Regions from separate parts of the Homo sapiens genome. Here regions 2, 3, 4, 5, 6 and 7 are each linked to region 1. Evidence: fine-mapped expression QTL. A gene starts in region 1. Each other region holds a variant in brackets. All regions are shown on one strand. Distances are from middle to middle.

Evidence for each region. PIP is the estimated chance that this variant, and not a neighbour inherited with it, causes the effect.
Region 2: its variant is fine-mapped to the expression of PRMT7 in whole blood (TOPMed, PIP above 0.99). The same link has a PIP of 0.9 or more in anterior cingulate cortex, atrial appendage, coronary artery and subcutaneous fat.
Region 3: its variant is fine-mapped to the expression of PRMT7 in whole blood (TOPMed, PIP above 0.99).
Region 4: its variant is fine-mapped to the expression of PRMT7 in fibroblasts (GTEx, PIP above 0.99).
Region 5: its variant is fine-mapped to the expression of PRMT7 in cerebellum (GTEx, PIP 0.99).
Region 6: its variant is fine-mapped to the expression of PRMT7 in fibroblasts (GENCORD, PIP 0.93).
Region 7: its variant is fine-mapped to the expression of PRMT7 in lymphoblastoid cells (GEUVADIS, PIP 0.95).

The regions. Positions count from the first base shown.
Region 1 is chr16:68,308,502-68,312,566 of GRCh38, forward strand. It overlaps PRMT7 (protein arginine methyltransferase 7), which reads left to right and starts at 2,518. Exons shown (of 19, transcript NM_019023.5): 1 at 2,518-2,598; 2 at 3,541-3,675. It overlaps SLC7A6OS (solute carrier family 7 member 6 opposite strand), which reads right to left and starts at 2,445. Exons shown (of 5, transcript NM_032178.3): 1 at 2,234-2,445; 2 at 1,834-2,112. The coding sequence starts at 2,425. RefSeq lists an enhancer at 1,450-2,414.
Region 2 is chr16:68,353,491-68,357,551 of GRCh38, forward strand. PRMT7 (protein arginine methyltransferase 7) reads left to right here. Exons shown (of 19, transcript NM_019023.5): 16 at 2-76; 17 at 2,233-2,393; 18 at 3,211-3,307; 19 at 3,564-4,061. The coding sequence ends at 3,734. Among named protein-coding and RNA genes, the nearest start is that of PRMT7, 45 kb to the left of the region's middle. RefSeq lists an enhancer at 3,102-3,261. The variant C/T (reference allele first, on the strand shown) is at 2,379.
Region 3 is chr16:68,380,410-68,384,474 of GRCh38, forward strand. All of the region lies in intron 2 of SMPD3 (sphingomyelin phosphodiesterase 3), which reads right to left. Among named protein-coding and RNA genes, the nearest start is that of SMPD3, 66 kb to the right of the region's middle. RefSeq lists enhancers at 1-127, 1,494-2,330, 2,331-3,165. The variant C/T (reference allele first, on the strand shown) is at 1,796.
Region 4 is chr16:67,615,314-67,619,378 of GRCh38, forward strand. CTCF (CCCTC-binding factor) reads left to right here. Exons shown (of 12, transcript NM_006565.4): 5 at 1,432-1,565. Among named protein-coding and RNA genes, the nearest start is that of CARMIL2, 28 kb to the right of the region's middle. The variant C/T (reference allele first, on the strand shown) is at 2,073.
Region 5 is chr16:68,365,612-68,369,675 of GRCh38, forward strand. All of the region lies in intron 3 of SMPD3 (sphingomyelin phosphodiesterase 3), which reads right to left. Among named protein-coding and RNA genes, the nearest start is that of PRMT7, 57 kb to the left of the region's middle. RefSeq lists enhancers at 1,378-1,931, 1,932-2,484, 2,911-3,110. The variant CGTGCGCTGCT/C (reference allele first, on the strand shown) is at 1,824.
Region 6 is chr16:68,519,167-68,523,231 of GRCh38, forward strand. No RefSeq gene overlaps it. Among named protein-coding and RNA genes, the nearest start is that of ZFP90, 18 kb to the right of the region's middle. RefSeq lists enhancers at 1,709-1,788, 1,809-1,858, 1,899-1,948. The variant A/G (reference allele first, on the strand shown) is at 2,022.
Region 7 is chr16:68,054,887-68,058,951 of GRCh38, forward strand. DUS2 (dihydrouridine synthase 2) reads left to right here. Exons shown (of 17, transcript NM_017803.5): 7 at 1,478-1,538. Among named protein-coding and RNA genes, the nearest start is that of NFATC3, 28 kb to the right of the region's middle. The variant A/G (reference allele first, on the strand shown) is at 1,732.

The sequences.
Region 1 (4,065 bases):
CTGTAATCCCAGCTACTCGCGAGGCTGAGGCATGAGAACTGCTTGAATCCAGGAGGCAGAGGCTGCGGTGAGCCGAGATCGCGCCACTGCACTACAGCCTGGGCGACAAGGGCGAGACTCCATCTCAAACAAAACAAAAACAACAATAAACAATTACACTAGTACCATTTGCTTGTTGCTTGTGGATTCATTTTGAATTATAATTGTTTTAAGTTGCAAAAATAATTAAAATGAGTTCTATAAAAATGTTTATCAAGAGAGGGCATATTGGCTAGGCGCAGCGGCTCATGCCTGTAATCCCAGCACTTTGGGAGGTTGAGGCGGGCGGATCACTGAGGCCAGGAGTTCAAAACCAGACTGGCCAACATAGCGAAACCCCGTCTCTACTAAAAATACAAAAATTAGCTGGGTGTGGTGGCTCACGCTTGTAATCCCAGCTATTTGGGAGGCTGAGGTAGGAGAATTGCTTGAACCCGGGAGTTGGAGGTTGCAGTGAGCCAGCATCATGCCAATGCACTCTAGCCTGGGCAACAGAGTGAGACTCTGACTCAAAAAAAAAAAAAAAAAGAGAGGGCACACTTTATGTTGAGAATTTTCTGGTTTTTTTTTTAGAGACAGTATCTTGCTCTGTTGCTCAAACCAGAGGGCAGTGACTTGATCACAGCTCACTGCAATCTCTAATTCCTGAGTTTAAGTGATCCTCCTGCCCCAGCCTCCCCAGTAGCTAGGACTACAAGCGCGTGCCACAATGCCCAGCTAATTTCCTCTTCCTTTTTGTAGTGACAAGGTCTTGCTTTGTTGCCCAGGCTGGCCTCAAGCGACCCTCCTGCCTCAGCCTCCCAAAGCGCTGGGATTACAGGGAGTATTTTATTTTTTTTTGAGACAGGGTCTCACTCTGTCACCTAGGCTGAAATGCCACTGCCGCACAATCATGGCTCACTGTAGCCTTGACCTCCCCAGGCTCAAGTGATCCTCCCGCCTGGGCCTCCCTACGTGCTAGGATTAGGCGTCAGCTACTGTGCCCAGCCTCAAGGAGAATTTTCCATTTCTGTAGTTTTGCTGCATGTAGTAGACTTTTTTTGGAAGTGATTGCAAATGAAGTTAGCAAATGTAATATAAAGAAAAGCACTGGATTAAATGTGAGAAAACTTGCATTCTAGACCTAAATCTACCTCAAACTTGATATGCTATCCAGGACTATTCCTTTAACCTCTCTTTGATCAATTTTCCTACCTGCTCTATCTCTATTTTGCTCCAGTGATCCCCATCTCAGTCAGGGTGAAAGGCAATGTCCTTGCAAGTACCTAGCAGGCATCCTCCCCTCAAATTCCTTACTGCTCTCCTCTAGCTCACCGGGCTCCAGGCACCTTGCAAGGAGCAAAGAAACGGCTTAAGGGCCTCTTTACTTTCAGGTTCTCTGCCTAGAAGTCCTCTCGATATGTGGAATACCCTGCCATTCACCTTCTGCAAGTCTTCACTCAAATGTCATTTCCTCAGTGACACTCTCACTGAAGTGGCACCACTCTTCCTGCTTTGTCTCCCCGCCTCCTTACATCCCTTATCATCATCTGACACTGAATAGACTTGTTTACTGTTTCTGTCTACCTGCATGTTAGGTCCTCACTGCTGTATCCACAGAATCTAAAAAAATACCTGGCATATCGTAGGCACGTAGTAAACACATGTTGGATGAACAACCAAATCTGTAAAATGAGGCCGTCACGCCGGATGGATCATCCATCCCCTTAAGATGAAACTGTGCTGCGACTGGGCCCAGTCTTCTTGCATTACCATCCTGAGAAGCCCAGCGACCACCTTCAGGGGCATACTCACTTTGCAGGAGCCTGCAGAGGCGGCTTCAGGTTCTCCCTCCTCGTGGACAAGGTCTAACAACTGAAAGCCCGAGTTCCCGGCGGCTTCTGGGTTCCCCGGCGTGTACTCGGACTCCTGGCCGCTCGAGGTGGTCCCCAAGGATCGGCGGCTGGAAAGCACCCGGTAGCGGCCCTCCTGCCGGACCTCCCGAGCCGAGGCGCGGAGATTACGGCGGACACGCTGCTGGCTGTCCCGTGACGGGCGCAGAACTTCCCGCAGGAGAGGCTGGACTGGTTCCTCCTAGGGGGCAACAGGGGACGGAGGCCAGCGTAAGCAGGAGTTCGCGAGCGGGTCAGGGATCGGGTTTCGTACCGGCTGCACCCGAAGATGCCCTCCACACCAGCTGCACCACGCCCAATACCTGGGAGCACACAGTGGCCACCAAGTGGAAGACATTATTCTCCGCCGCTCTCTCCAAACCCTCCGACGTCTTCTGTGCCGCTGACTCGACCGCGTCGCTCCGGAGGCGTTTACAAGCGAGCACAAGAGCCTCCGCCGGCTCCGCACTGCGCTTCCGCTTCACCCGGAGTACAGCGGTCCTGGCGGCCTCCATAGTGGCTGCCGCTGAGCACTGTGGGAGCTCGCGGGGTGTGATGGGATAGCTTTCCAGTTCTGCTTTAGGACCCGCCCCCCAGCACGCTCCTCGACGCTGCGAGGTCCCGCCCCGCGTGCTGGCCGCGGTAAAAGTGGTAGCAGCGGAGGCGAGCGGAGGGTTTCCCGCGGCGGGTGAGGCGCTGGGTATGCTGGGAAGGTGGGGTCGCTTTGGGGTTCTGTGTGCAGCGAGCATGGTGTCCTTGGCACCAGGGTTTCGGCAGAGGAGCCTAGCGTGGGCCTACTTGGACTCCTCCGCGTGGGGCAGCTCGGGACACCCGGGCCTGCAGGAGAGCGGGGTTCTAGGCTGGCCCCGGCTCTGCAGTGCAGCCGGGTGCCTGCCACTCGCGGGGCTCTGTCGCAGTACTCGTGCCTGGCGCCTCCCCTCAGCCACAGAGACCGCAGTAGCTCCAACCATCGCACCCCTAACTGGGCCACGAGTTCTCTGATTGCCAGACCTGTTGTCTTTGCCACTCACTGTTCTGAGTAATTGGAGAGTCGTGTATTCACTACACGCCAACCAGAGTGGTCCTGTAAAAGCGTAAGCCTAGTGTAGATACGCTTCTGCTTAAAACTCTTGAGTGGCTCCCAGTGCTTTTAGAACAAAATCCAAACGCCTTTCCGAAGTCGACAAGGCCCAGCTTGATTGAGCAGAAGATGTGATAGGAGATGAGGAGCGGGGGGCTTCTGCAAAAGTGCTTCGGTCGCTCAGGCTTTTGGCACATTTTGCTTATGCAACCTAGTTCTTTCTACCTTAGGGCCTTTTCTTGGGAAAGTTGGGGTAAGGATTCCTGACCTGTAAAAACTCTTCCCCAACTTTTATCCCGGTCTGTCTTGTAGATCTCAAATGCTAGTTTCCTCAGAGTCCTTCTGTAACCTTGGTTTTCTCTTTCTACAACGCTCTGTGTATTTCTTGCATTCATGTAGTCTGTAATTTGTATTACTCTCTCATTAGAGTCTAAGCTCTTGGAGGGCAAGGGTCTTCTCTAGCTTGTGGTGGTGGCTCCAGTCCCTAATATAGTGCCTGGCACATAGAAGGTATTTAATAAATTTTGTTATTTTATTTTTTCGAGACAGAGTCTCACTCTGCTGCCTAGGCTGAGTGCAGTGGTGTGATCGAGGCGCACTGCAGCCTTGACCTCCTGGGCTCAAGCGATCCTCACCTCGGCCTACCGAGTAGCTGGGACTACAGGCACGCGCCACTACACTCGGGTAATTTTTAATTTTAATATATGTATATTTATATATATATATATATATATATATTTTTTTTTTTAAGACAGGGTCTCACTCTGTCACCCAGGCTGGAGTTCAGTGGCGCCATCTCTGCTCACTGCAACCTCTGCCTCCCGGGCTCAAGTGATTCCCCTACCTCAGCCTCCCGAGTAGCTGGGAGTAACTGGGACTACAGGCACAGGCCACCGCGCCCGGCTAATTTTTTTAAAAATTTTTTGTAGAGAACGGGGTCTCACTATGTTGCGCAGGCTGGTCTGGAACTCCCAGACTCGATATCCTTGCGTCTCGGCCCCTCACAGTGCTGGGATCACAGGTGTGAGCCACCACCGCCTAGCAAATACATTTTGAATGAATGTAGTGGACCAT
Region 2 (4,061 bases), 45 kb after region 1:
GGACCTGTGGCGGATCCGGAGCCCCTGTGGTGACTGCGAAGGCTTCGACGTGCACATCATGGACGACATGATTAAGGTAGGCAGGGCCACACTCTGCATAGTACCCCCGACCTGCTCCTGTATCGCAGGCCTCTCACAGGGTCCCAGCTTGGGCAGCACAGGCTCTTCTGTTGGGGGCAGTGAGGTCAGGTGCTGCCATTTTGTGTGGTTCAACATGAGCATTGCTTGGTACCAGCCCTGTTCTTGGCTCCGTGCTGTCACCCTGTGTCAGAATCTCCACTGGGCCTGCACGTCCTGTCATTGCAACTGCCCCTGCCAGTGCCCACAGCTTCTTTTCTAGTGGGGCTGACTTTCCAGAGGCCATCTGGGAACCTTCTTAGGCAGCCATTTCCATGGTGGGGGCTCCATTCCCGGGAGGGGTACCTGAGGAGATTCCCACAGGTTATTTACATGGTAGGGGTTAGCAACTGGGCCTACGTTCTCCAGAACCATGGGCTGTCCTGACAGCGCCAGTGGTCCTTGGATTCATGAGGACTGAAGCTGAGAGTCGTGTTCCATCCACATGAGAGGGGCAGGGTGAGGAGCATGGGCCGTGCTGTGTATTAAGGAAATGCACGTGGCTCCTGCTTGTCATCCCAGCACTCTGGGAACCTGAGGCTGGTGGATTGCTTGAGCCCAGACGTTTGAGACCAGCTTGGGCAATATAGCAAGACCCTGTCTCGACAAAAAATAACAAAAAATTAGCCAGGCATGGTAGTGCACACCTGTATTCCCAGCTACTCAGGAGGCTGAGGTGGGAGGATGGCTTTAGCCTGGGAGGTCGAGGCTGCAGTGAGCTGCGTTTGTGCCACTGCCTCCAGGCTGGGTGACAGAGCAAGACCTTGTCTCAAAAAAAGAAATCTCATGGACACCAGAGGAGCGGGAAGCAGCGGTGGCCCCGCAGCAGCAGCTATGCATCGGGAGGTGGGGCTTTTCTGCTTCTGCTCACCTTTCTGCTCTCATTTTCCCATAGTGAACATGGATTGCCTGTGTGTGAACACTTTTTTAAGTAAATTAAACCTTGTGGATATTTTCAGTTTGTATCTTATCTGCCCCTCACAGCAGACCATTGACTGTTCGATGCTTTTAGAAATCTCCTTCGTGCTGAGCCCTGCGTGCTCTGGACCCATGCGCTCTACGCCTCCTCTGGGCCCCTGCTCATGGCCTGCCCACCCTGGCTGTCCCTGTCCCCTCTTGCTGATACGGTTCTGCTACTCTGGTCCTGGGCCAGTGTCTGTCTCTCGTGTGCTAAGGCAGATGGCCGAGAGTGGTGGGTATCCCACAGTGGGGTGCCAGGCATTTTTACTTCTATGCTTTCCAAATCCACCTGCCCTTCCCCACCCTTAGCCTGGCCCTTCCAGTGCCCTGTCTTAGACCTGGCGCCACTTCACACGACCAGCCAGGCCCAGGGCCCCGGGCATCCTCCCTGGCAAGTCCTCCCATCCCCTGCCATTGGTCTTCGTGCTCCTGGTGAGCCTCCGACCCAGGCTGTCCCCTGACTGCTGCCGTCCTGGTTTGAGCCCCTCCTGCTCTGGCCGTCCTCCACACGGAGCCCACATGAACTTGTAGATCTGAGTCTGGCCACATCCCCACTGCAGGAATGCCCTAGCTGGCTCCCCACACCACACCTGCAGAGTGGCCCGGCTGGCCTGGGTGCCCTGGCCTGCTCTCCTGACTTAGCTCTATCCTCAAGGCCCCCTCTGGCCCTTCTCCTGCCGGCTCCCATTTGACCGTCACCTCCCCTCCTCCAGGTAGCTTTCTGCATCCCTCCTGGATGCAGGTGCCCCCAGCCTGCCGCCAGGCACCGGGGCTGTACTGTCACGCATTTATCCCTCCCTGTGGCCCGGGGCCCACCTGTCGGGGCCACACAGCTGTGGTGGTCACCAAGTTTCTAGGTGCTGGGTGTTCTCACCAGTGATGTAGATATGTGGTCCTCAGAAGGCTTGAGACAGGCAGCACCACCCCATCTTAAAAATCCGGAGAGCGAGGCTCAGAGCCAGCGGTGCCTGGGGAGCCACTGATGAGAGAGAAGTGGCAGAGAGGGGGCGCCGCTGGTCTGCTGGGCGCTCGGCATCTTTATGGGAGAACGCACACCCCTTGTGACTGCAGTCAGTGGGAGCCAAGCCGGGGAGCGGTACCTCTGTCTAGCTGCCGGCCTGTCTCTGCAGCCCCCAGGCCCCCTTCTGTTCGCAGCGTGCCCTGGACTTCAGGGAGAGCAGGGAAGCTGAGCCCCACCCGCTGTGGGAGTACCCATGCCGCAGCCTCTCCGAGCCCTGGCAGATCCTGACCTTTGACTTCCAGCAGCCGGTGCCCCTGCAGCCCCTGTGTGCCGAGGGCAC[C/T]GTGGAGCTCAGAAGGTGGGTGCAGAGAGGGCTGGGGGGCAGGGAGGGGCTGCTGCTTGCCCTTGGAGTTCTCACCCCCGTGGTGAGCACAGCTGGCCTGGGAGACGCTGACACGTGGAGGGGGTATTCGTCCTCCCCACAACCTTGCCCTTCCCTGTCAGAGTGGCCCTGCGCGTGTGGTGGTTCCCACGGTCCTGTGTGTGCCACTGGTGGAGGAGCCAGGAAGGGCTCTGCTCCCCCTCTACAGCTGAGGCTCCCTTGTTGGATCACAGCTCAGGAAGATGGGAGCTTACTTCCTGTGGTCACCGATGCACCATTTTCCTGAACCCTCCTGGGAGCTGAAGCAGGTCAGGGTCAGCAAGTGCTGCTTGCGTCCAGGGACGGGCAGCCCTGTCCTGCTCCGGCCCTCACCCCACCCTCGCCCGAGGAGTGACTTCTCCTGGAAGCACCTCCCAACTCGGGGCAGGCAGCCAGGCAGGGCGGGCGCCATCACCTGAGCTCCCAGGGTTGCTGTCTGGGGCATCAGAGGGGCCTTCCGGCCTTCAGTGCCAGGCTGTGCCTCAAGCTCCCCCAGACCCTGCAGCCACACCGGCCCTGCCCCATGTGTGGCCCGGCTGCAGGGCTCGGGTTGGCTCAGGTGGGGGCTTGGCTGCGGCTCTTCTGGCTGGGGTTTTTCTGAGGAACGTTTATGTAACTGCAGCACTAGGAACTCCCGGCAGGGCAGGAAGGAAGTGGGGAAGACCACAGGTTTCTGGAAAGCCGCAGGAGCTGCAGCTGTTCCCCCGCTGCCTCTTGTGTGACTACTTCTGCTGGGCCCCCCTCTCCTTGACAGGCCCGGGCAGAGCCACGCAGCGGTGCTATGGATGGAGTACCACCTGACCCCGGAGTGCACGCTCAGCACTGGCCTCCTGGAGCCTGCAGACCCCGAGGTAGTGCCTGCGCACCGGGCCCAGTGTGCGTGCAGACCCTGAGAGCAGGCGCCGCCTGGGGAGGCCTCCCTGCCCCCATGCTCTGGGTGTTTCTGTCACAAGTTCTTCGGGCCAGATGATGACCCCTCAGTGGTCCTGGGCCATCTGGCCCCTGAGCAGCTTCTCTCTGCTGCGAGCTGCCTGGGCTGGAGGCTGGCTAGGAAGGAGGCTCAGGTGCCAGGGAGCCCTCACCATCTTCCTGCTCTTCTTCCTACAGGGGGGCTGCTGCTGGAACCCCCACTGCAAGCAGGCCGTCTACTTCTTCAGCCCTGCCCCAGATCCCAGAGCACTGCTGGGTGGCCCACGGACTGTCAGCTATGCAGTGGAGTTTCACCCCGACACAGGCGACATCATCATGGAGTTCAGGCATGCAGATACCCCAGACTGACCACTCTTGAGCAATAAAGTGGCCTGAGGGCTGGGGTTCTGAGTGGCTCATGGCTTTCTAGCGGGGAAGGCTGAAGGCCCTCCTCTCCTCTCTGGGAGCTGCTCGGCCTCAGGGATGGGAAAGACTGCGCCGTGTTGCATCTTGTTGCATCTTTGCACTGCTGGCCTCTGGCTCCAGCTGTGGCAGGAAGCATGAGAGGGTGACTGAATTTGGAGCCCTGGAGGGGCTGGGAAGACCCCCCTGCTTGTGCTTCTGAGGTGCTGAGAATGCTCCAACACAGAGACATCTCTCCCCAGCTGGGAAGGGAGTGGAAGCACAGGGAGCTTG
Region 3 (4,065 bases), 72 kb after region 1:
CCACAGCTGAGCATCTAGCCAGGCAAGGCCTCCAACCTCAAGTGCTCTGAGCCTGCCTGGGTGCTGAGGCCTGTGCCTGGGCTGGGCCTTGCAAGTCACCAAAGCAAGGGATCCTGGAACACCAAAGCAGGTCACGTCACCTGCTCCCGGCTGACCAGCGCCACCTGCATCCTCAGGAGGCCCTCTGCCCTCAGCACCACCTCTGCCCTTCATAGGAAGGAGACCAGGAGGGCCTTGCTTCTCTCAGGTTCTGCTGTTGAGATTTCTGTCCCAGCCAAGTCCCTACTTCCCTGACATGAAGGCTGATGTTAATGGTTCATGAGCCTAACAAGGCTTGGAATATGCTTTACTTAAGAGGGGATGACAGCATACTGTCTGTGGGAGTAGAATTTTAAACACAAGTCCACACAAATGTTAGGATTTAGGCAGACCCTGTGTCGGCTGCATTTCAAGTACAGCATTTCCTTCTGGAACGGATTGGCCGACTACACGATGTGTAGGCATTTCAAGGCACCAGAGAACACAGATTAAGACGACAAACCTTCCTAAAACAGAACAGACGGGCTAACATTCTTCGGAAGGGAATCATTTCACATTCAGTCTAAAGTTTTCTATGCAAAGAACATTTAACAAACTGAGTCCTAGAGGAAAATTTATGCAGACCTTAAGAAGCAAGTGAGTGAGAATGAGTAAATAAAATCAGGTGTCAGCATTTCACTCACCCTCCCAGGCGGCTGGGCTTTTTGGACTGGGGCAAGGCCTCACTGCTGAGGGTTGAGGCCCCGTCCTGGACCCTTTTGGAGACCTCTAACCCCAGGCCACTGCTCTACACATGGCACCATGAAAGACCATCCCTCTGCACACGGCACCATGAAAGCCCTTGGATCCAAGAGAACCAGCCAGAACACCCTCCCCTTTGAGAGAGGATGCCCCAGCTCAGGCCCAACCAAGGGCTGCTGTACATCTGATAAGGGGAGACCAGAGCTCTTTTCCCTTTAGTTTACCTCTGCTTCCAAGCCCGAGACAGGACTCTTGCCTCACTTCCTCTGGCCCCTGGAGCACCTGGAACCTGATGTCCAGCCAAGAGGTAGGACTGCACTTCCTGGTCCTCTGGCGGTTGGGTGGGATCACGTGATGAGTTCTGACCAATGAGCTGTGAGTGAAAGTGATCTCGGGTATTGCTGCGCTTAAGTACTTAAACGGTAGATGTGGAACCTTCCAGAGCTCTCTCCCTCTGCCACATTGACCTGCAGTGTTGGAGATGGTGGCTGCTCCGTCAGCCTCAGTCCAGGGTGAAGAGACATGGAGCAGGGCCCCAGCTAACCCACATGTAGTGTGGGCAAGAAGAAAACCTTTGATTATAACCACCGCATGACCCATCCCATCCTGACCAATAGAGGACAGCTTCTGATTGGCTGTGTAATTAGTCCACTTACTTGATGCTGAAAACAAGCCTCATTACGGACAGCTTGCAGTTTCTCAAGAATACAGCCAGATCTACCCTCCAATCCAATCCAACTCTTCCTGCTCTCAAGGATAATGAAACAATAATGATGTTCCTTTGTCCTGAATCCAGGCCAGGCGGTAGGCTCACTCCTCACCTCCTCAGTGTGGCCTAAAAAAGTCCATTCCTACCTGTCCAAGTTCTTCTAGCACCATGAAGCATCAGGGGAGCTGAGTCTTAATCTTTTAATTTGTAGTAGAAACTTTCTGCTCAGAGAAGCGGTTGCTTTGGTGACACAGGTAGCACAGTAAATCCGTAGACGTGGAGAAGTAAATCCACCGGAAACCTCTG[C/T]CAGGGGTCAGGGTATGGGTTGGTCACAGGGTCCAAGTGAGCCCTGTAGGGGAGGGGCAGGAGGCAACACTGGGGATCCTTTAAGGTGGGCTCAGATAGAGACAAAGCCCAGAGGCCCAGCTTGGCGAGACACTGCCAGGTGTGGCTAGCTGACAGTGCACCCAGGGCTGGCAGGGGCAGGCTGGGCAGCAGCTGTTAAGCAGGGAGGCTGGGGGCACTGGGCGAGTCAGATGCAGCATAGTGGCTGCTCAGGGTATTGCACGGCAAGGGCCTAGGGTTTCTGGCAGCAGAGACTTTGCCTCCTAGTTGTGTATAGTTAAGGGTGGGGTGTCCCCGAGGGAGGGTGTGGAGATAGGAAGGTGGTGGGTATTGGGTGGAGCAAGCCGTGAGCAAGGGAGGAACAGGTGTGGTGGTGGGACAGAAAGGGAACTGAGAGTGGACTCAGGGAGGTGGAGCCACTTAGGGAATCCTGCCTTGCCAGGGCCATGCCTTTGAGGACCATAATGACTACCAGATCACTGACTGCAGACAAGGAGGCATCCTCCAGGAGGGGCAGCTGGGGAACACGGGCCTGAGGGGAGGATCCCCTGCATTCACTTAGTTTGCCCCCAGTTAGTTTTTTTGTTTGTTTTGTTTTGTTTTGTTTTTTGTTTTGGAGATGGAGTCTCGCTCTGTCGCCCAGGCTGGAGTGCAATGGTGCAATCTCTGCTCACTGCAACCTCCACCCCCCACTGGGCTCAAGCGATTCTCCTGCCTCGGCCTCCCGAGTATCTGGGATTACAGGCATGTGCCAGCTAATTTTTTTTGTATTTTTAGTAGAGATCGGGTTCCACCATGTTGGCCAGGCTGGTCTCGAATTCCTGACCCCAGGTGATCCACCCGCCTCAGCCTCCCAAAGTGCTGGGATTACAGGCTTGAGCCACTGCGCCCAGCCAGGTTTGTTTAACTTAAATGCTTAGCCTGTCCGGATAGCATCCCACCTACACTGTGCAGAGCAAGCTGGCTCAAGTCATCCCTTCTGCTCAGAGCATGCTGGCTGCATCTGTCCTGAACTCCAGGAGGGCTGAGTGGCCCTCTGGCTGGTTGGGGGTCTGGATGGCAACCCACCTGAGGCTGCCTGCCCTCCCCCGCACACCACAAGAGAAAAGGAAGACAGAGTGTCTCACTAGACTTTCTTGGTAAAGTTTTGGAAAGAAAACGTCCAGAACAGAGGTCAGCACCTCTGAGAAAACAGTCCATGCAGTTTCAACCAGATTGGCCTTAGGAAATAGGCCCAACCGGAGGTGTAAGAGGCTCATTCCTCATCTGTTCTCCACTTGCTGCCCCTTGGTCCTGGCGCCATCCTCTTGCTCCCCGCACCATGGGACTGCTCCTTCTCAGGGCCCTTGGAGGATCCCTCAGAGCCCCTTCCCTGCCCACTTCCTAGGGGCTGGACTTTCTCTTGCCTCTTCCCTCCCTTCTCGGCTGATCCCTTGTGGGTTACCTGTTTCCAGGTGACAGCCAGCCCAGGTATCTCCTGATCTCTGACCACATGTATTTGATTGACAACTCTACATCTTCCTCTAGAAGTTTATTACTCCTCCTCCCCCCACTTCCCCACATACAATTCTGTCTCCCAAATAGTTCTGGGCCCTGGACCTCTTCCATACCCTGTCTCCTCTTCCCAGCTCACAATTCTGCCCCCTAGTCCCCTGGATCCATTCCCACAGCCATATCCCAGTTCAGGCCTCGCCCTCTCCAACCTAGACACTGTAACAGATTCCACCTTGTCTCCCTCCTCTGGCCCACCTGGCAGCTGGTGGGGTCTTTCTAAACTACACATCATACCACACTGCTCCCCTATGGCCCTTCAGTAGTGCCTGCGGACTCCAGGAGGTTGCCCAGGCACCTAGGCAGGGAAGGGCAGGCTATATCTGGTGGCCTGATTCCTCTGTCTCCTCTTGCTCCTGGAGCTCCAGGGGCCCTGACCCGAGCAGTCCCCCACTGTGCCCTTCCAGGCCTCCACACTTCTGTTGGGGCTGTTCCCTGACAGCCGTCATCTGTGTGAAGGAACATGGCCTCAGCAGAGGAACTCAGGGTTCAAGATTCACAGAGAAGATCCCTTCATCAAAACTCAGCCAGTCCACCCATGGCCCCTGGGATAACTAGAGGACCTTAGGCTGAGGCCAAACAGGCCCTTTCTCTCTTGATAGCTGAGTGTTTCTGTGCATGTATTGCACAAGCTTGCAGTCTGCATACTAGAAAGGGAGGTAACCAGCCCCTGATAGATC
Region 4 (4,065 bases), 690 kb before region 1:
TTACTTTGTTCTAAAAGAAGACCAAGCATGGTGGCTCACAACCTGTAATCTCAGGACTTTGTGAGGCCGAGGCCGGAGGATTGCTTGAGCCCAGGAGTTTGAGACAAGCCTGGGCAACGTGGCAAGACTCCATCTCTACAAAATAGAAAAAATTAGCCAGGCATGGTGGTGCAAGCCTGTAGTCTCAGCTACTGGAGAGGCTGAAGTAGGAGGATCACTTGAGCCTGGGAAGTCAAGGCTGCAGTGAGCCTTGATCCTATCACTGCACTCCCACTGGGTAACAGAGGAAGACCCTGGCTCAAAAACAAAAAACGAAAAGAAAATTGGATGCCACTTTTCTTCTCTTGTTAATTGTTTTACTTCTTATCCATACCACCAGACTATACACTTTCACAGGAAGAACTCTGTGCTTTACCGTTAGATCCATAGTGGTTCTAAAGAATCGAATGAACAAATGAACATTCCTTGGAATTGCTTAGTTTTTATTATACTCCAGTCACTCTTCCTCTCCAGCATTCTCTTCATTCTCAAAGAGAATCATTTCTGCAGATGGCTGGTTCTATTCATTACATTGTGGCTCTTCCTAATTGTATCCTCAAAGGCAGCCTTCCTTTGGTTTTAGTGTTTGATACTACCTTGCTGTCACCCCTTACCTGCTGCCCACAATTACAGATGGTCACTAGTCTGTGAAACTAGCACTGCATTGTGCTCTCAGTTTTGTCTCTAAGATTCCTTCAGTGAAAGACAAGAAATGTAGAGAGTATATTATTCATGTTTTATATTGGATGAATTGACATTCAGAATGATCACAGCATATTAGACATGGATGTTTGAAAATCATTTGTTTAAATCACATAAAAGGAAATACTATGTAAAGCCTGTGATAAGCCTCTGAAATTCCTTATCAAGACAGATACATGTGGAAAACAAGTTATATGTTTGTGTTTTTAAAAGAAAGTTGCAGAATATGGACAGCCCAATGGCCCTATATTTATAGTCATAATACAACGAGATTTGAGAGACAGGATCTTGCTATGTTGCCCAGGCTGGTCTCAAACTCTTAGCCTCCCAGAGTTCTGGGATTAGAGGCATGAGCCACCAAGCCCGGTCTCTATTAACTTTTAATCCATAATGACCAGGATATTCACAAAATAGGAATAAGAAGGTTTTTATTGTATTCAAAGGCAGCGGATTCAGATGGGTAATTAAGAGAAACTAATTTGGTATGTGTTATAATATCCTGGTGTTAGTATAAATTCATCCAGGCCCTCCCATAGTTTTCGGAGCTGACTTTTGTATCTGCTTTCAAGCTACTGCAGTTGATGGGATGAATAGGGTTCCAGTCTCATAGCAGTTCTGTGCCACACATTGAACTCTGTCATTAACTGTGCCCTTGATCTTGCTCTTCCTGTTACTCCATCCTTTCTCTAGGTACTCGTCCTCACAAGTGCCCAGACTGCGACATGGCCTTTGTGACCAGTGGAGAATTGGTTCGGCATCGTCGTTACAAACACACCCACGAGAAGCCATTCAAGTGTTCCATGTGCGATTACGCCAGTGTAGAAGTGAGTGTTCAGCTTTTTGTTGGTATCTCTCTTAGGCAGACCATGATTTATTTCAATACAAAGCTATAACTACTACCCAAACGGACTTAAGATGAGGTAGAAAAATGTTAGTAAATTATTAACACTCCCACACAACACCGCTCCCCCAAAAAACTTATGATGATTGTGAAAGATTTACTTGTTAAAAAGAGTCAAGTTTCTGGCTGGGTGCGGTGGCTCACGCCTATAATCCCAGCACTTTGGGAGGCTGAGGTGGGCGGATCACCTGAGGTCGGGAGTTGGAGACCAGCTTGACCAACATGGAGAAACCCGATCTGTACTAAAAAATAAAAAATTTAGGCTGGGCCTGGTGGCTCACAGCCTATAATCCCAGCAGTTTGGGAGGCTGAGGTGGGTGGATCACAAGGTCAGGAGATTGAGACCATCCTGGCTAAAACGGTGAAACCCTGTCTCTACTAAAAATACAAAAAATTAGCTGGGTGTGGTGGCAGGCACCTATAGTCCCAG[C/T]TACTCGGGAGGCTGAGGCAGGAGAATGGCGTGAACCCCAGAGGCAGAGCTTGCAGTGAGCTGAAATCACGCCACTGCACTCCAGCCTGGGCGACAGAGCGAGACTCCCTCCATCTCAAAAAATAATAATAAATAAATAAATAAATATTAGCTGGGCGTGGTGGTGCATGCCTGTAATCCCAGCTACTTGGGAGGCTGAGGCAGGAGAATCACTTGAACCCGGGAGGTGGAGGTTGCAGTGAGCCGAGATCGTGCCATTGCAGTCCAGCCTGGGCAACAAGAGTGAAACTCCGTCTTAAAAAAGAGTACCAGTTTCACATGTTAATACAGGCAAATTCTGTCAAACTTTGAAGAAAAAACTGTACCCAGAGCATTTTAAAATGGTAGGTTTATCAATTTTATTATTTGAAGCTACACTGTTACCAAAACTGGGTCAGAAAACTACCAAAAAGAAAACTTACCCTCAGAGAGAAGCAAAAATTCTAAATGAAATTATTAGCCAATGAGCCAACCTAATTTAGTAATACGTTCTAAAAATAAGTGATACTGAATATATCTGAAACACAAAGATTGTTTATCATTGGGAAATTGCTGATGTATATTACATTGAAGGATTGAAGAAAAACCATATTATTTCTGTAGATGGGATGGGAGCTAAAATTCAGTAATCATTAATTACTGTTTAATGTCCTAGCAAGTTACGTATAGGAGAAAACTTCTTTAATATAATGTGTTTAGGCTGGGCATGGTGGCTCACGCCTGTAATCCCAGTACTTTGGGAGGTTGAGGTGGGCAGATCACCTGAGGTCAGGAGTTGACCAGTGTGGCCAACATGGTGAAACACCATCTGTACTAAAAATACAAAAATTAGCTGGGCATGGCAGCATGCGCCTGTAGTCTCAGCGACTCGGGAGCCTGAGGCAGGAGAATCACTTGAACCTGGGAGGTGAAGGTTGCATTGAGGCAAGATCGCACCACTGCACTCCAGCCTGGGTGATGAGTGAGACTCCCCCTCAAAAAAATTTTAAACAGCATATATACCAGAAATGTATAATAAACTCATCCTAATTAATTCTGAAACATTGAAAGTATTTCCATTAAAATCTGGAATATGACAAGATATTCATTCTTAATGTTACTGTTTCAGCTTTGTACTGGAAATCCTAGCTAATCGAATAAAGCAAGAAATGAATTATTAATGGAAAGATAAAACTGTTATTTCTTGCAGAGAGATTTGCTTACAGAGAAAATCTAAGAGTATCAGAACAAAAACTTAGAGCAATAAGAGTTCAGTTCACTGGCCGGATATAAGATAAGCATACAGAAATCAGTAACGTCAATAGTGATAGGAAGGTATGAAATGGATTCTAATAGCAATAAAATAACTGAGGGATAAACTGAACAACAAAAAATATCTATGAAATGTACATGAAGAAAACCTCAGTAACTTTTCCAGAGGACCTGAATAAATGAAGAAACATTACAAGTTGATTCTAACTTTCAACTGGAAGAATAAATATGAATGGCTAAGAAAAATTTGAAAATAGAATGAGGGGCTTGTGCCATTGGATTTTGTAAAACTATAGTAAATGAAGCCAGTGTGATATTGCAGTAGGAATAGATAGCTCATTGGAACAGAGTAGGTTCTGGTACATATTGAAATTAACAGGTTAAATAGGGAAATCTTGAAGGAAAAGAATTAGTAACGCTGTTAGGATAGTTATCGACTTATGTGTGTGAAAACTTGGTGTGTAACACTTATGAGTGGGGCCAGGCGCGGTAGCTCACGCCTGTAATCCCAGCACTTTGGGAAGCTGAGGCGGGTTGGTCACCTGAGATCAAGAGTTTGAGACCAGCCGGGCCAACGTGGTGAAACCCCGTCTCTACTAAAAATACAGAAGTTAGCCAGGCCTGGTGGCGTGCGCCTGTAGTCTCAGCTACTCGGGAGGCTGAGGCAGGAGAATTGCTTGACCCTGGGAGGCGGAGGTTGCAG
Region 5 (4,064 bases), 57 kb after region 1:
CTGGCTGCATGGTGAGTCATCTGCTTTATAGGCCGTGGTCCCGTTGTCACCCGTCTTGGATGAGAGCTCCCTGACCTGTGTCCTAGGCTGGCCCCTGCACACCCCTGGCTCCATCCTGAGCCCACTGTGGCAGCATCCTCTTCAGGTCTCCCCTCTGCCCCGACCTCCTGCTTACCTCCTTTACCCAAGACGGAGCAGGTGACCCTGGCAGGATCCCAAAGGCTGGCTTAATACAAATTAGCATCTCCACTGTACCCTGCAGGCAATTCATAACTGCCCTACCCCAGGTGGGGGCAAGATGGAGCCCTTGTCAGTGCTCAGCCCAGGAGAGGTGAGGGATGGCCACAGAGATGCCCTGCACAGAGAGGCCGCTTACCAGCTCCTCATCCCCTGCCCCTGGGATTCCTTCCCTCCTGTGCCTCTGTACCCTCCCCAAGCCATGCAAATCCATTCCAGACTGAGTTTCCCAAGATGAGGAGACCCCAGACCCAAAAAGCACTCCAGGGAGGTGGCTGGGCAGGACACACTGCCTCTCCCAGTTGTTGGCTGAGGGCAGAGGGCCGCAGGGTGGGTGCCCCACATCTGTGGAGCTCACAGCAGCCCAAACGTCACAGCCCATCTGCTCCAACAGCCTCGGCAGGCTCCGTCCTTCCTTCACTGCTGCAGTCGGTCAGGCTGGTATTATCTCCTCCATCTGGACGTCCTCAGCAGCAGGTGCCCCTGGCTTTCTACAGCTCTTCATCCCCTTCCCAGCCCTAATGCACAGCCTTCCTTCCCCAGCACCTGGGGGTACGAACGTCTGGCTGTTCAGCCCCACAGGTTCACCATTCACTTCTTGCCCACAGACAGACCCAAACCTTAGCCTAACAGCATCCCCGCCCCCCGAATGGCTCTGTGAGATCACGCAGCATTGATGGTTCTGCTGCAAAAACAAAACACTGATGAAGCCGCCATGCTCAAAAGGCCACATGAGGCTGAGCACGGTGGCTCACGCCTGTAATCCCAGTACTTTGGGAGGCCGAGGCAAGTGGATCACCTGAGTTCAGGAGTTCGAGACCAGCCTGGCCAACATGATGAAACCCCATCTCGACTAAGAATACAAAAATTAGCCGGGTGTGCTGGGCACAGTGGCTCACACCTGTAATCCCAGCATTTTGGGAGGTTGAGGCAGGCAGATCACAAGGTCAGGAGTTTGAGACCAGCCTGACCAACATGGTGAAACGCTGTCTCTACTAAAAATACAAAAATTAGCCGGGCGTGGTGGTATGTGCCTGTAATCCCAGCTATTCAGGAGGGTGAGGCAGGAGAATCGCTTGAACCTTGGAGGCGGAGGTCACAGTGAGCCAAGATCATGCCACTGCACTCCAGCCTAGGCAACAGAGTGAGACTCTGTCTCAAAAAAAAAAAAAAAAATTAGCTGGGTGTGCATGCCTGTAACCCCAGCTATTCAGGAGGCTGAGGCAGGAGAATCCCTTGGACCTGGGGGGCGGAGGTTGCAGTGAGCCAAGATCGCCCCATTGCACCACTCTGGCCTGGGCGACAGAATGAGACTGTCTCAAAATAAATAAAAGACCACACGGGGGCGCCGTCTTCAGGCAACAACTGCTCCTCCTCCATGAGGATCATCTCAGGCCCAGTGGGCTCGTGCTGGGGTGGGGTGGCGACGCATGGACATTACTTTTCTGGGTCCTTACAACGGCTCAGGCACATGATAAAGTGATGCTGCTTTTACCGTTGAACACACTGAGGCCAGAAGTTGAGTTGTGGGCCGGGGTCACAGGCTCACATGGTCTAAGAGGCAGCTTCCAGTCGGATCTGTTTGT[CGTGCGCTGCT/C]GTGCGCTGCTCTGCGCTGCTTTCTGAGGGGCTGGTGTCTTTGCGGTTTCTCCCCGGCCGCCTGTTTGTTGGTCTTAAGGCGTCAGCCTCTCACTCATCCAACACTTGGTGTCACCTGCCCCGCGCTGTGTCCCGGACAGGGTTGGACACTCGCAGGGAGGCCTCAGACTGGGCCCTGCACGACAAGAACCCACTGGCCGGAGGAGTGACGAGGTCCTGCTCCCTCCCGCCCCGCTTCTCCCTCCTCATCTGCCGTGTGATCTCACCAAGATCCACTTGATTATTTGCTGGGCCTCATTGATTCCTGGCTCGTGGCCTTGGGAGCCGCAGAGCCTTGTGTTTCTCTTGCAAAAACAAGCAATCACACGAAAGGCTGTGCCTTTGAGTCCTGGCGGGCAAAGACTGTCAACGGAAGAGGTGTCCAGAATAAGGCTCTATTGTAGGTGAGGAAAAAGGGATTCCAGTCCCTTCCTTCACAGAGCCACATTTCCCTGAAGGCTCTGAAGTCCCATACGGGAAACCATGAGGGCCTTCCGGGAAGGAGGGGACCGCTGATTTCTGCAGCGAGTCCCTCCAGCGTCCCGGCCCCTCTCCGGCTGGGCCTGTCCCCAAGGCAGCCCCACGTACTTCACTTCTCCGCGCTGGGATCCGCGTGTGCTGGGCACACCACAGCTCTGCTGTCCTGGTGCTCTGTCTGATGGACAGACAAGACCCTGGGCACGAGGGCAGAGGAGCCCATGAAGGGAAGAGAGGATTGTGTGGCTGGCCGCTGAGGGAGCTCCATGAGGTGGTGTGGCCACACCCAGTGTGGGACCAAGACAAGCAGGGGCCAGGGGTACAGGAGCCCCTCATCGGGGTTGTGGCTGGGGCAGAGCTGGAGCTAAGGGTGGCGGGGGCAGGGGGGCGGGAGGTGGTACAAGGTGACGTTCAGACTTCCTGAGGCAGTGGAGGGCATAAGAGGAGTCACACCTGGCCTCAGACGAGGAGGGTGGCTGAAACCACAGCAGGGCTGATGCAGAGGAGGGGGCCTGGGCCAAGGGAGCTGGAGATGTGGGGTGCACCCAGGGCCATCTGGAAAGTGAGCTAGGGGCCTGGAATGGATGGGTCGGGCACAGGACAGAGCAGCCAAGGTGGTCCTTCTGGCTTCAGGATGGCAGAACACAGAAGAGGAGCAGCCCGGGGCAGAGGCTGAGTCTGGTTTGCGAGTGAATGGGGATGTGTCCTGGAGGCAGCCAGATGTAGGGCTGGGGGGAGAGGTCTGGGCCAGGACAAAGCAGAGGGGCCTCAGAAAGGGCAGAAATGGAAGCTGCAGAGTCTCACTCCCAGGCAGGTGTCATGATGGTTGCTGGGAAACCCCACTGCGGGGCAGCCAACCACGGCTCCAGCTCACTGCAGCCGCGTGGGGTACGGAATGTGGCAGGCCTGGGGCTGCTGAGAGAACCTGCAAACCGGGTTTTCTGTGAAATATCTTGATTTTAACATATTGGTCAAGGCTGGGTATGGTGGCTCACGCCTGTAATTCCAGCACTTTGGGAGGCCGAGGTGGGCAGATCACCTGAGGTCGGGAGTTTGAGATCACCCTGACCAACACGGTGAAACTCCGTCTCTACTAAAAATAAAAAATTAGCCAGGCGTGGTGGTGCATGTCTGTAATCCCAGCTACTTGGGAGGCCATGGCAGGAGAATTGCTTGAACCCGGGAGGCAGAGGTTGTGGTGAGCCGAGATCGTGCCACTGCACTCCAGCCTGGACAACAAGAGTGAAACTCCGTCTCAAAAAAAAAAAAAAAAAATTGGTCAATACAAAAAATTTTTGAATGTCATAGATCAGGTTACAGTTTGAGACCCAGGAGGTAGAGGAAGATGAAAAGAACTTTCAGGACAGAACCTGGGAGGAGGGGCTGTCCCAGGCAGACACTGTTGAGCTCAGTGGGAACAGTGAGGGTGCCCCACAGAGGAGGGAGGTGGGGACAGGATGTGTGGATTGATCTGTGCAGAAGTGGGCTGGGGTAGGGGGCGGGGGAGGGCCCGGCCTCTGAGCCACCTGTAGTAGGGTGGGAGTGAGGGGTGGGAGTAAGGGGCACATCCTCCCACCCTGGACCTGGCAACACATCCCCTTCCTCCCCAGAAAGTCACTCTAGCTGTCGAGACAAAAATATATCCAGGGAACAGAACACCAACGGACCATATGCCAAAATGGGAAGGTTGGATCTATCTGTCAGGAGTTGCTTCA
Region 6 (4,065 bases), 210 kb after region 1:
GATCACGTGTAACAAGGAGATGCTGGTTACATTTGCTGGGCTGGGGAAGGTTGCCCAGGGAATGGGGACAGGGTGAGAAGAGGAAAAGGGCAAGGAGGGGCCCTGATGAGGAGTGACACTCAGGAAGGTAGACTCTGAAGAGAAGTCCTCCCCCACCCCTCAAGCCATCACTGAGATCTCTACCCCAGGCCAGCGCCTACTCATCCTTCAAGGCTCAAGCATCACTTCCTCCAGGAAGCCTTTCTGCCCAGCTCAGGCTGTGGTCCTCCCCCTTCCATGTGGTGCTCCCAGCACACTGCGCCACCAACCTTGTGACTGCCCACCTCCAGTCCTGTATTGGGTTGGCTTGTCTGTATGCTTGCCTGTCTCCCAACAGAGGCTGTATGCCCAGTTCTGGTGATGCTGCCCCACCCCATGCACTAGTGGCTCCCTGGATTCCGGCCGGGCTGTGCTGCCTATGGGATTCCATCACACAGATGCACGAGGCCTGTAAGGAAAAGTGGATCCCAAAGCCAGAGTCTGAGTCAAGGGTTGCTGGGGGTGGGGTGTGGACAGGGGGTTGGCCGAGGGAAGGGTATTTTACTCCACATCACATAAGATTTTTACACTCATTGCCAGGCACAGTGGCTCACGCCTGTAATCCCAGCACTTTGGGAGGCCGAGGCAGGTGGATCACTTGAGGTCAGGAGTTCAAGATCAGCCTGGCCAATATGGTGAAACTCCAGCTCTACTAAAAATACAAAAATTAGCCAGGCCTGGTGGTGCACCCCTGTAGCCCAGCTACTCTGGAGGCTGAGGCAGGAGAATCACTTGAACCCGGGAGGCGGAAGTTGCAGTGAGCCAAGATAGTGCCACTGCACTCCAGCCTGGGCGACAGAGCGAGACTCTGTCTCAGAAAAAAATAATAATAAATTGCACTCTCTCTTCTTTGTTTTTTTTTGTTTTGAGACAGAGTCTTTCTGTCGCCCAGGTTGGAGTGCAGTGGCATGATCTCGGCTCACTGCAGCCTCCGCCTCCCAGGTTCAAGCGATTCTCCTGCCTCAGCCTTCCAAGTAACTGGTATTACAGCGCCCACCACTACGCCTGGCTAATTTTTGCATTTTTAGTAGAGACGGGGTTTCATCATGTTGGCCAGGCTGGATAATCCACCCACCTCAGCCTCCCAAATAACTGGTATTACAGCGCCCACCACTACGCCCGGCTAATTTTTGTATTTTTAGTAGAGACGGGGTTTCACCATGGTGGCCAGGCTGGATAATCCACCCACCTCGGCCTCCCAAAGTGCTGGGATTACAGGCGTGAGCCACCGCGCCCGGCCAGACTTTTACACTCTCGAGAGGGACTTTGGAAGTGCCGTGGGTGACAGCCCTTCTGAAGTCCCCAGGACCCTGGCTGGAAGGGATGGGTAATTAGAGCTGTTGTGCCTGGGTGACAAAGCCAGAGAAGCCTGGTCCCTGGAGGAGAAACCGAAATGTCTGGAGAGGTGGGGCGGGTGGCCAGGCTCAGGGTAGAGAGAAGCAATACAGAGGCCAGGTAAGAGAGCCGCCCCCTCTCTGGACAGGGCTGCAGGTGAAATACGCCGCCCGAGGTAAAGGAAAGAACTGCAGGTTCCATAAGTGTCCGCTAGGGGGCTACCGAGGATACACCAGCTGGGTCGCCTTGGTAACCGCGGAGCTGCGAATGTGTTGTCCCCACGCGGTGGCGGGGAGGTACCAAGATCGCCCCAGGCGCGGCGTATCAGACGCTGGGGTGGGGGCGGGGGTCTGTGGCCATCAGCCCCAGGCAGGCCGTGAGCCCAGGCCAAGGTCCAGGCAGAGATGAAGGACCCAGCTTACTTTCACCTTCGTGTTTTCTCACCTCTGCTCAGGTCACACCTTCACTGGTTGAACTGGACTTAGCAGTTGTGGTAGGAAAAATTAAAATGGTGTTTTGGATCAGCCAAAACAGCTCCTGCATTGTACAGATGAAATAGCAACCCAGAGAGGGAAAGTCACTTGGAGATCACACAACAGCAGACCTGG[A/G]AACAGAGCGAAGAGAAAGTGGAACAGAATGGAAGAAAGCAAAGCAAATGAGCAAAGCCCAGTCAAGCAATGTGTTCACTTTATTATCATCATCATCATTATTATTATTATTATTATTTTGAGACAGGGTCTCACTCTGTCGCCCAGGCTAGAGTGCTGTGGTGCAATCATAGCTCACTGCAGCCTCAAACCTCGAACTACTGGGCTCAAGCCGTCCTTTCACCTTAGCCTTCCTCCTGTAGCTGAGACCACAGGCTCATGCTACCATGCCCAGCTAATTTTTGTATTTTTTGTAGAGACAGGCTCTTGCTTTGTTGCCCAGGCTGGTCTCGAACTCCTGACTTCATGTGATCCTCCGGACTCAGCTTCCCAAAGTGCTGGGATTAAAGGTTCGAGCCACTTCACTCAGCATTCTATTTTTTAAATTACCACTTTTGAATTTAAATAGTTTTAAGCATAAGCTTTTACCTGGTGAATTTAAGAAGACATAATGCTACAATGTAACTTAAGAATCCCTCCAGCAGATGACAGGCATCTTTTCCTTCCTATACCACATTCTTCCTCCTCCAACTAGTGTCTTTCTCTGGGCTTTAGTTTCATCTATACAATGAAGGAGCTGTCTTAGCTCTTCTCAAAAACCATTACTCTTTATAATAAAGCAAAGCCTCTGTGGTCCTACACTTTGGGAGGCCGAGGCGGGTGGATCATGAGGTCAGGAGTTTGAGATCAGCCTGGCCAACATGGTGAAACCCCCATCTCTACTAAAAATACAAAAATTAGCTGGGCGTGGTGGTGGGCACCTGTAATCCCAGCTACTCGGGAGGCTGAGGCAGGAAAATCACTTGAAACCAGAAGGCAGAGGTTGCAGTGAGCCGAGATTGCGCCACTGCACTCCAACCTGGGTGAAAGAGTGAAACTTCATCTCAAAATAAATAAATAAATAAATAAATAAATAAATAAATAAAGCCTTTATGTCATAAGCTTAGCTCAGTTAACTCAGCACACAGTTCGTGGGCACATAAGTGGGTAAGTTCCTCTTACAGACAGAACCTGCTTGGCTGTCAAATATCTCTGTAACTGGGCCCCTGGCAGGCCCAGCCTCAGGACAATCTAGACCAGGTTCTTGGATCCATGTATCTGGTTGTAATGTTGGAGGACATCAGCCATGAACAAAAACTATCTCGGCTATAATATTTGCAAGTTAATTAATTTGCAAGTTTATTTAAAAATTCAGATACAAGGCCAAGTGCCATGGCTCATGCCTGTAATCCCAGCGCTTTGGGAGGCCAAGGTGGGTGGATCACTTGAGTTCAGGAGTTTGAGACCAACCTGGCCGACATGGTGAAACCCCACCTCTACTAAAAATACAAAAATTAGCCAGGTGTGGTGGTGGGCACCTGTAATGCCAGCTACTCGGGAGGCTGAGACAGAGGAATCAATTGAACCTGGGAGGCGGAGGTGGCAGTGAGCTCAGATTGCACCACTGCACTCCAGCCTGGCGACAGAGCAAGACTCCGTCTCAAATAAATAAATAAATTCAGATACAAACATAATTCAATAAATATAGCATGAGAACAATCTTGTTTAATTTTTTATTTTTTATTTTTTTTGGAGACAAGTTCTCACTCTGTGGCCCAGGCTGGAGTGCACTGGTGCGATCTCGGCTCACTGCAACCTCTGCCTCCCGGGTCCAAGTGATTCTTGTGCCTCAGCCTCCCAAGTAACTGGGACTACAGGTGCATACCACGAGGCCCGGTTAATTTTTGTAGTTTTAGTAGAGATAGGGTTTCGCCATGTTGGCCAGGCTGGTCTCAAACTCCTGGGCTCAAGCAATCTGCCCGCCTCAGCCTCCCAAAGTGCTGGGATTACAGGCATGAGCCACTGCACCTGGCCCAAATTTGTTTAATTTCTAGTCCCTCACTCTTTCTCTGCCCTCCTTCTCTATCCTGTCCTTGGCTCATTTTGTCCACTTTCTTTCTTTTTTTTTTTTTTAAGATGGAGTCTTGCTCTGTTGCCCAGGCCTGGAGTGCAGTGGCATGATTTC
Region 7 (4,065 bases), 250 kb before region 1:
ACAAAAATTAGCTGGGTGTGGTGGCGCGTGCCTGTAGTCCCAGCTACTCAGGAGGCTGAGGCAGAAGAATCGCTTGAACCCGGGAGGCAGAGGTTGCAGTGAGCCGAGATTGCGCCATTGCACTCCAGCCTGGTGACCAAGCGAGACTCTGTCTTAAAAAAAAAAGAGTGTCTAGTTTCCTTCTCTTTGTGGCATCCAAGGGCTGGCCTGGGACTCATGTGTACCTACAGTGCCTAGATCTCAGAGACCCTCTATGCATATTGGGGGGAGCTGTTTTTTTGTATTTATTCGTGAAACTCCTTCCCAGGGACTCCCATGACTATGAGTCCTGAAGCTTTAAGTATCAAAGTATAGGTAAGACATATTGCTTCCTGAATTAACATAGATAGGAAGCCTGGGGAACATAGGCAGAGCTCATCTCTACAAAAATGGTGGTGCATGCCAGTGGTCCCAACTACTTGGAAGACTGACGTGGAAGGATCACTTGGGCCCAGGAGGTCGAGGCTGCAGTGAGCCTCCATTGCGCCACTGGACTCCAGCCTGGGGAACACAGTGAGACCCTGTCTCAAGAACAAAAACAAAGGCAGGAGAGTGCTATAGTTAATGTGATAGGTTTTGAAGTTAAGACAGACCTGGTTTGCAATTCTGGTTTTGCTACTTGTTAACTGTGTGACCTGAGATAAGTTGCTTAACCTCAATGAGAACCTAGTTTTCTCACCTATAAAATAGTGCTACCAACCTCTGGCATAGGGAAGGGTAAATGAAATAATGCCTGTAAATGTCTTTGCAGCATGTGGCACATACTGACATCTTAGTAAGTGTTAGCTATCGTTATAATTACAAAGAGTGAGTGGGAACTCAGGCAGTTATTGCTGCTGATCACGGACTATTAACTATGTATTACTATTTAGGTTGGTGCAAAAGTAATTGCGGTTTTTGCCATTACTTTCAATGGCAAAAACCGCAATTACTTTTGCACCAACCTAATACATACCAGAGGACGGAGTGAGGATTCTTTTGACATCTAAGAATTGTTTGGATTAAACCATCTGTGCAGCCCAGCCAACAAAGGCAGTGCTAGAACTTCCACCAGAAGCTGTCGTCTGGCAAAGGGCTCTTAGGCTCATGTCACTTTTCTGCATTGACAAATGGCTTTTACTATTTCAGCCGAGTTCAGTGTGCCCATCTGAGTTATCTGATACAACTCCAAAGTAGCAAAGCCCTCTTCATCTAGCCCTTTATAGATGTGTGCACACATTATGTCTTTTCTCTGGATTTCTGCTTAGATGAGGCAGGTGCACGTTTTAAGGATGGGTTTCTTTCCCATTTTTCAGCTTCTGTCATTGGGGGTTGGTGTGTTTCATAGAGTCAGGGACAGGGTAAGAGGTTCATGAGCACAGGCCCATCCATGCCTTTAATTTCACCTTCTTTGCTCTAATTCAATACTTATTACCTTTACTCCTTCATCCTTTTCCAGAGAAAATGATGTGGCTGGTATTGATGTCAACATGGGCTGTCCAAAACAATATTCCACCAAGGTAAACTGGTTTCTTTATACTCCTCATAAACATAGGATGCAGATTAAGAGGCTGACAAGACATAACTAAGTATAGTACCTAACTCTGGACTGGATTCTGTACTAGATGGGGAAAATGCTCAAAAAGATATCGTTAGATGAACTGACAACATTAGAATAGGGACCATAGTATATTAGCTAAATATACTGTATCA[A/G]TGTAAACTTATGAAGATAACTTCTGTGGTTATGTAACAGAATATCCCTGTTCTTAGAGAATACACACTGAAATATTTAGGAGTAAGGGGCTATGATATATGTAATTTACCCTCAAGTGGTTTATACATATACACACACACTCATATATCACACACACATACATATATAGATTCATACATAGATTATATATATTTTATTATATATTATATATAATGTTATATATTATATAATGTTATATATTATTTATATGTTATATAATATATAGGTATATTATATTACATATATATTTATTCTATATAATATAATAATACACATATATGTAATTATATGTAATCTATAATTATATATTACACATATAAATATATACAATAAATATATAAATATATAATATATAATTATATAATACATATAAATATATGTAATATATATTTATATATATATGTAATATATATGTTATAAATATATAATATATAATTATAGATTACATATATTATATATTACATATATAAATATATAATAAATATATAAATATATAATATATGTAGTATATAAAATAAATATATAATAAATATATATTACATATATAAATGTATATAATTGTGTATGTGTATAGATACATATATATATATAGAGAGAGAGAGAGAAAGAGAGAGAGAGAGAGAACTCATGCCCAAGTAATAAAACAATGCAAAGGTACAGAGAAAAATAGAGGGGACAGGGCTGTGTCTTTTCATGAATAAGACTGAGACACATATCCCAGAAAGCCCAGAGGAGGATTATAAAAAAAAAAAAGGGAAAACAACTGAGACATACATTTAAAAAAAAGAGAGGAGGCCGGGAGTGGTGGCCCACACATGTAATCCTAGCAATTTGGGAGGCTGATGCAGGAGGATCACTTGATCCCAGGAGATTGAGATGAGTCTGGGCAACAGAGTGAAACCCTGTCTCTATAAAAATTTTCAAAAGTTTAAAAAAAAAAGGCCAGGCCTGGTGGCTCATGCCTGTAATCCCAGCACTTTGGGAGGCTGAGGTGGTCAGATCACCTGAGGTCAGGAGTTTGAGACCAGCCTAACCAACATGGTGAAACCTTGTCTCTACTAAAATTACAAGCAATTAGCTGGGCGTGGTGGTGTGTGCCTGTAATCCCAGCTACTTGGGAGGCTAAGGCAGGAGAATCGCTTGAACCTGGGAGACGGAGGTTGCAGTGAGCAAGATCATGCCACTGCACTGCAGCCTGGGTGACAAGAGCGAAAATCTGTCTCAAAAAAAAAAAAAAAAAAAAAGTGGATGCAGTGTAAATGTTCCCATTGTCGTATCAGAAGAGATCAGACTATGGTAGCCCAGAGAAGGGAGTGGAAAGGCAGCCTTTAAACTTGGAATTTGATAGGGAAATATTGTCCTTGGGCTGAGATTTAGGACCCTGTAAGCAGAGGGTGTGGTATAAGCAGGGGCCTGGGGATGAATATGAGGTAGACACAGGGAGGCCTGAGTAGCCCGATTTGACCAGAGGTTTGTCGAGTGGGAGATGATGAAGAAGAAGCAGACTGCAGGATCGAAAACCTTGGTTGGTAAAAGATCAGCTGGACTTGGACTTTAGGTATCTTTGGGCTTTTTTTTTTTTTTGAGATGGAGTCTCACTCTTGTCGTGCAGGCTGGAGTGTAGCAGTGCAATCTCGGCTGACTGCAACCTCCGTCTCCTGGGTTCAAGCGATTCTCCTGCCTCAGCCTCCTGAGTAGCTGGGACTACAGGTGCCCGCCACCACACCCAACTAATTTTTTTTGTATTTTTAGTAGAGACGGGGTTTTGCCATGTTAGCCAGGCTGGTCTTGAACGCCTGACCTCGTGATCCACCTGCCTCGGCCTCCCAAAGTGCAGGGATTACAGGTGTGAGCCACTGTGCCCGGTGGTTTTGCTGTTTTCTGATTACTTCTTTGTGTTCCTAAATTATGTGAGGAGCAGAGTTAAAATGATCTGGAGGCAGGGTAAGGTGGTATATACCATTTATATAAGGAGGATAGGGAATGATTATATATATTTATTTGTTTATTCAGGGAAGATTTTTGGAGAGACACAGAAGAAACTAGTAACATTGATTTCCTCTGGGGAAGGAAACTTAAGTTTTTATCTGGTTATGCATAGGTAGTAAATTCCCATTACAGGGGTGCTACTGAAAATAATTAACTGGCACAGCACTGGCACTGATCAGTCAGAAGAGACACCAATCAATATGCCACACATGTACATACTAGCTGAATATCTGCTGTGTTCTCATGGTTCAAAAATTGAAGCCAGATAAAAAGCATAGATTGAGGCTGGGCTTGGTGGCCGATGC